Linked DNA regions of Homo sapiens. The protein of the gene in region 1 interacts with the protein of each later gene in a pairwise test. Each region holds a gene or a part of one and is shown on either strand. Other genes may lie near its edges. The genes, in order: SLC41A3 and SMCO4.

Region 1 (2,954 bases):
CAGGCCTGATCCAGGTAAGCCTGGCTGCAGCAATTAGAGGTGCGCAGCTGTGTAGTCAGCCAGCAGGCTTGATCTCTTGTCTGAGTGAGAGGCTGAGGGAGGCGGGTGGGGGTGGCTGGACGTGTGGGGCACAGTCCTTATCTTCCAGGAGTTGAGTCAACTTGTCAAATACAGAGGCCATTCCACACTGCACACCACATGCTACATGCCACACACTCCACACCACACAGCGCATCCCACACACTCCACACCACACCACAAACTCCACACCACACACTGTACCCCACACACTCCACACCACACACTTCACACCACACACTCCACAACACAGTGCAACCCACACACTCCACACCACACACTTCACACCACACACTCCACACCACACAGTGCACACCACACACACTACACACTGCATGTCACAGTGCATGCCACATGCATGCTACAGAGTGTGTGCTGCATGCTACATGCTATACAGCTTACGCTACGTACTGCACTGCATACTACACATGTCATCTTGCACATCACTCGTCACATTATGTACTGCATGCTAGACACGGCACACAACATGCCACACACTGCGCGCAGCACATTCATCATCACAGGATAAGAGGAGCAGCCCTGAGGATGAAGCATGTTCCCACGGAACAGGCTGAGGAGTGGTCCAGCTATCCACTGCCTCCCCAACGGTGGGTGGGCAGGGCCAGACCCCTGCAGGGTCTGCTGCTGCAAGGCATGCGTAGACATTGATCAGGGCTGGACAGCAGTAAGCATGGTGAAGGAGATTAAGCTGGTGCCTGTGTTGGGCAGGTATTCAGCACACTGCCTAGACTGCAGCGGGCTGATGGTCCCCAGTGGGTCTGGGGCCTTTGCAGGGAGCACCGTGGGCGCTGGAGGGCAATTCTATGGGTGTGGTGCTGGTACTGGCACTTTCTCATCTCCCAGAGTTTATGGCATTTGTAATTGTGGTATGTTCCTGACCCTAAAGGGTAGGATTAGGGAAATCCCAGAAGTTGTCCTGAGCAGCAGCAGCTTATGACTCCAGTTGGGGAGAAGGAAGGAGCTGGGGTTAGCCTGGACAAGGGATTGAGGAGCCATGAGACCTGAGCAGGCTTGTGTGGACTACCCCATGGCACCTTCAGGAAGGGCTGACTGTCCTAACCTCCAGGGGAGAAGGGCTCAGGCAAACCCAAATGGACATCTCGGCAAAGTCCCATGAGTAGAGCCTATCGCAGCAGAGAGAGCCCCAGCTGGTGAGTGGCAGTGGGTCTGATTGGCCCTTCAGGGTGCCAGAAGCTGGGCCCACTAGAGGGAGGCTAGGTAAGTACAGATGAGGGTCACCTCTCTAGCCACTGCTTGAGCTCGGAGCTGGGCTTCAGACCCCAAGAGAAGCTGGATGAAGGAGGCTGGCTGGGGTTGACCTGTCCACCTTGGTATCTCTCCTTGAGCCTCAGCTAGTGCTTCCTGCCTGTACTTGACTTTCTGACTTGGTCTTCTTTTGTGTCTCTTTGCCCTTCTGACAGGTGACAATCCTGCTGTACCTCGCAGAAGTGATGGTTCGGCTGACTTGGCACCAGGCCCTGGATCCTGACAACCACTGCATCCCCTACCTTACAGGGCTGGGGGACCTGCTCGGTACTGGCCTCCTGGCACTCTGCTTTTTCACTGACTGGCTACTGAAGAGCAAGGCAGAGCTGGGTGGCATCTCAGAACTGGCATCTGGACCTCCCTAACTGGGCCCCGCTGGTCCCATTTGCTCATTAGAATTTCCTCTCACATCAGTGGGATACAGAATTCAGTTTCTCCCTTGCCAGGTCCTTGGGATGGTTGACCCCTGCCTCTGCAGTAGCCTTTTGTGAGTCTGCTAAGGTAGCTCTCACACACCTCGGCTCTGGGGTTGATACCTGAGCCTGCAATAGAGCCCTGAAATCAAGAGCATGGCTTGAGTGTGTGAATATGATGTGTGCACATGCTTAATGAGCGTGCAAGTGTGCACACGTTTGTGGAGAGGAGGGTGTTCTGGCCTGAGAAGGTAAAGAAGAGGCATGTCCAGTATGCTTTGCAGGGTGTGTTTGCTCTTTTCCATGCCCATGCAACCCAGATTGGGGTGGAGCAGGAAGGAGCTCTTTTCTGTTCCCAAGCCTCAGAACTCTTGAGCTGTGGCTTACTTGCTGTCTTCACCAGGTTCAAGCTCCGTGGGCCACACTGCTGCTGTGCCAAGAAGGTGTACAGCCTCCCCAGGATGGGGCCTCATACAACCCTTCATCTGCACTCAACATTTAATCGTGTCCTTGCTGTCTTTTTATTTTCCTTTTTGTTTGTTAGCAAAAACCTCTATTTAGATTTCAATAATCAGAGAAGTGTAAAATAAAACAGATTATATTGTACTTGACCCTTTATGTCTTTAAAGATAGTTAATGCAACCCTGAGGCTTGGGGTCTATAAATAACAAAAGCATCTGGCATTTCTCTAGTGCAGTGTTTCTCAAAGTGGCCTTCAGCCTAGAAACGTCAGTGTCACCAGGAAACTTGTTAGAAGTGCAAATTATTATCCCTCACCCCCTGGCCTGACTAGCCAAATCAGCATTTCTTGGGAGTAGAGCCAGCTATATGGGTTCCACAAGCCCTCCAGGTTTCTCATACACACCCACGTTTGAGAACTACTACTCGAGAACATCATCTTTAAAAAATGTATGATCATTTCCTGTCTCTTATTAACTCATCAGGACAACTGTAGCCATGCTTGGACTTGAAGATTATTATCTTCATGTGGTAAAACAGACATCTATTCATGTATTCAACAAATGTTGATATAGAACCTCTTGTTTTAATGTTCTAGAAGGAAAGACATGGTACATTAACTGGAATAATTGAGCAGACTTTAAGGAAGGCACAGTTTATAGGTGCATGGGGACCAGAAGAAGGGGTGAAGCATCCTGGGGCCAGGCACTACCAGAC
Region 2 (3,820 bases), on another chromosome or scaffold:
GCTGTGTCCTTCTGCACTATTTAAATGCAAGGGCAGGCTGCAGGAGAATACATTTACATATTACCTATATGATTTCAGAAAAAAAGCACCTAAACTGATTAAAAAACCACCACCACCAAAACAAGCTACTTATGCTGATGTGAAATTGCTGCACCAATTTGAACAGGTTTCTATGCTGCACTTCCAGGTCTTCCCAAGACTGACAAAGTTCAAGCCAATTTCTGCAGTACTGATGACAGACTGAATTGGGACTAACAAGGAAGAAGGAAAATGTGGGATGCAAGGAAAACATCTGTAAAAGCTCTGTGGAAGCTGCAAACCAGTCCTACCCTGAACCTGCTCATCACCAAAACTCACTAGTTCTGGGGCCTTCCTCCCTCTCATCCCTATAGGATGAGAAATAAGCCAAAACCGGAATCAAGAGAGAATTCCCTTTCCCACGGCAGAGGGAGGCCTCCACTGTCACCAGCAGAGCTGCTCCCAGGCAAAGCCAAAGAAACGGCCTGGCCAAACTCCACCTTCCTGACAAAGGCACCATGTGCCAGGCTCCTGGGATTGCAGGGACAGCCAAGACTGGCAGCCCTGAAGCCCACGCATTTGAGTCCCTCCACTTCGGCAAACAGCCCAGGAATCTTTTCACACTCACTACTGAAATCCAAACTGAACCAGTATACAAATCAGATGGTCCTGCCAACAAAACAGGAACAAAATGGAAAAAAGGGTGATAAATCAATGATATCCTGGCTAAATATATACTTCTTCTTTCTGCTTGCAGGGGCACTGCTATAGATTTAAACCTTTGATAAATATCTTTTTTGCTTCCCAGTAATAATTAAAGCAAACACACCCAAACACGCACCTAAACACGAAGCAAAAAGAACGAGAAAAGGGCTTTGCTCAGGACATAATGTTCAAGAGGTAGGCATGACAGCTCATATCCACAGGCAGAAATGCTCTTCTCCCATTAAAACATGTACCTGTCTGGCACGGGTTCTTACCCCACAAAAGAAACAACTGGACACTCTAGGGGACTGCCGAGAAGTGCCCTCAGAACAAGAAGAGGTTCCCTCTTTGAGGGAAAAGTGTAAACATCAAGCAGAAAGTGGGTGAGCAGACTCTTGCACGGAGTGACTCACCGGCAGAGACAGCTTGTTGCTGGAGATGCTGGGAGCAGGCAGGTCCAACAGAGGTAACCTGGCTTCCTCCTCGCAGCGAGAACACAGCCCAAATAAAGCCAGAATCTGACCACCTGACCTCCGGCCTGACCAGAGCCAGCACAAACTCTCAGAAGGGCAGGGATGTTGCACAATTTGGAAAAACGGAAGCCCAAAAGCAAGTTTATGACCACGTCTGGCACTGACTAGGGGAAAGGGCACAAAACCAGTATATTCCTGACATGGCAACAGTGCGTCCTACCGATGACAGGACATGCAGACCCCAGCCAATCATCTCCTTGGGCTCTGATGCCCGCTTCCCTGAGCATGGCTTGGCGCCCCGCAGAGACTGCACCCGTCAGAGGAGGCTGGCCTCGACTCCTCTTGGGGCTGGCCATTATGTTCACTGCCACTCCTGCTTCCCAGTCAACCCCTGCAAGTTTGGTGACCACAAGTTAACCCCATCTAGGGCAGATCAACTCTTATGGAATAGCCAAAACTGAGGACCAAACCCTGGTGGGTCCCCTGTGCCACCAGGGAAGAGGGGTGTGCAGACAATACCCCAGGAAGGCGTCTTCCCTTCCACACTTCTAACCTTGACTAGCATTTCCCAAAATGCAGTCTGAGGAATCCAACTTCATTCTCTGCGATGCTCCTGGAAAGTTAGGAATGATAAGGCTGGGGTGGCACAGGGAAGGGAAGGCCCTTTCGGACTGTGCTCAGCCACCTTTCTCTAGCTGTTAGCAGAGACCAAAGGAGGCACTTTTGGTTTCTGCAGAGATTGCTTTTAGCCTGCACATAGTCAGCATCTCCAACACCCATCCCTGGGGCATCAGACCTGAAATGGGAAGGGATGATGCAATTCTAGTATCCAAAGGCACTAAGCTCTATGGATTCCAACAAGCCCCCTCTTCTCCGCAACCACTGCCACTGTCTTAATGTCTTCTGTTCAGGCCCTCATCTCTCAAGACATTACTTTAATGAACTAGTTTCTCTACACCTAATTTCTACTTGCTTCACTTCAAAACTCCAGACAGCCACCGAGCTACCTTTCTAGAATACAGGCCTGACCCTCTCTGCCTACAGGACTAAGTCCCAACCCTGGCACAGCATGCAAGGCCCCTGCCTGCCTTTCCAGCTGGAAGCATGGGCTTTGGAGTCCTACAGATCATTGCAGTGACACTTAGATAAACCACTTGCTGGCTATGTGAACACACATGTGTTTCTGCACCCATTTCCACATCTGTGTGTTGGGAATAGCATGATCAGCCTCCCAGAGCTACTGTGAGGACCGAATCCAAGTTCTAAAGAGCCTAGATCTCACCAACCTAGCTCCAGGGTCCTCTCTCTTTCCCATCTTGCTATACCAGCTCTTCATAATCAATGAGAATTGACTCAAGGGTAAAAAAAAAAAAATACATGCAAGATCTAAAAATGAAGGGTCATAAATTTAAAAATTAGGCCACCACAATGTGAAAGAAACCAAAATTAACTCATTATCAAAATAATGTAGGAGGACGGAAGGAACAGGAAGAGAAGGAAAACAGTACATTTAGGAAGAAATGCTTTTAAAATATAAGTCTCTATGATGTTTTGAGCCTCATTTGCTCCAAAGATTTAGGAAGATGACATTTCAAAAGCTCACAAAGACGACACTTCTACTTTTTAAAAACTATTTCCTAATTATTATCTTCAGAGAACTAAGAAGTACTTTCACAGACTGAATGTTAATAAAATTCTCAGAGGAAATTCTGGCATCAGTCACAACAAACACCCTCTTGGAATTTAATTTCCTTTCAGCATACAATTTACTATGGAAACTCATTTGTGATGCCACCACAACCAGTCAAAATCTGCCTGGAGCACAAAAACTTCAGAGTCCCAAAAGAGGGCCTTAAAGGACTAGATGGAAATTGGTCCCATATTAAGCCAAATCCTGCATCTAACAGAAATTTCCCCCACACCAAACTAGCTTTGACCGTCAGCCAGCCCACTCCTCTCTCTAGCTGCCCTATACTATAGGCTCTTCCAGGGCCCCCTTCCAGCTAGAACCCCCTGAATTCTGTATCTTTTCCCTGTCCAACAAAATTAATTTAAAAAAAAAAAAAAGGAGGAAGGCCACAAAATGGGCAAAGGGAAACCAGCTACATCCATTTTCAACTTTCTATCAAAGACCTGTCCTTTCTGGCTTACGATTTTTTCAATTCCCTTGGACAAGACAATCACAGGCCCTGGAATATTCATTGCGCGTGCTGGGGCTTAGGGTGGGAAGGCAAAAAGGCTAGAAGAATCATTGATAAGTACAAAAAGTACTTTAAGCCTTTTCCCCCTGAGGACAACTGCTGAAAGACTTACTCAATCCCATTGACCCAAGTACCTGTGTGCAAGGGAAAGGAGTGGATGCCAATCTTTACTCAGCACCCACTGCAATTAGTGGGTACATTTCTTGAATATAAGACAGACAGTATTATCCTGATTTTACACATGTGGAAACCAGGCTCAGAGAGGTCAGGCAGCAGGTTCAGTATTTACACCCAGGCCTGCCAGACTCCCAAGACGCTTGAACTTAACCACTTCACCACACTGCTTCCAGAGTCTACAAGTGTTTATGTTAAAATGTGCTGGGTTAGGGAGCCCGTTAAGAGTTTACTTGTTGCTCTTCACAT

What was found.
Region 2: the proteins of SLC41A3 (region 1) and SMCO4 interact in binary tests that used the Homo sapiens proteins (3 or more experiments, as listed by UniProt).

The regions. Positions count from the first base shown.
Region 1 is NC_000003.12:126,005,792-126,008,745, reverse strand, and holds the end of SLC41A3 (solute carrier family 41 member 3), read left to right. Parts: coding exon 1-14; intron 15-1,520; coding exon 1,521-1,730; 3' UTR 1,731-2,181; coding exon of another isoform or gene 2,182-2,339; 3' UTR 2,340-2,389; downstream 2,390-2,954. UniProt on the Homo sapiens protein: Na(+)/Mg(2+) ion exchanger that acts as a predominant Mg(2+) efflux system at the mitochondrial inner membrane.
Region 2 is NC_000011.10:93,536,710-93,540,529, forward strand, and holds part of SMCO4 (single-pass membrane and coiled-coil domain-containing protein 4), read right to left. Parts: intron 1-3,820.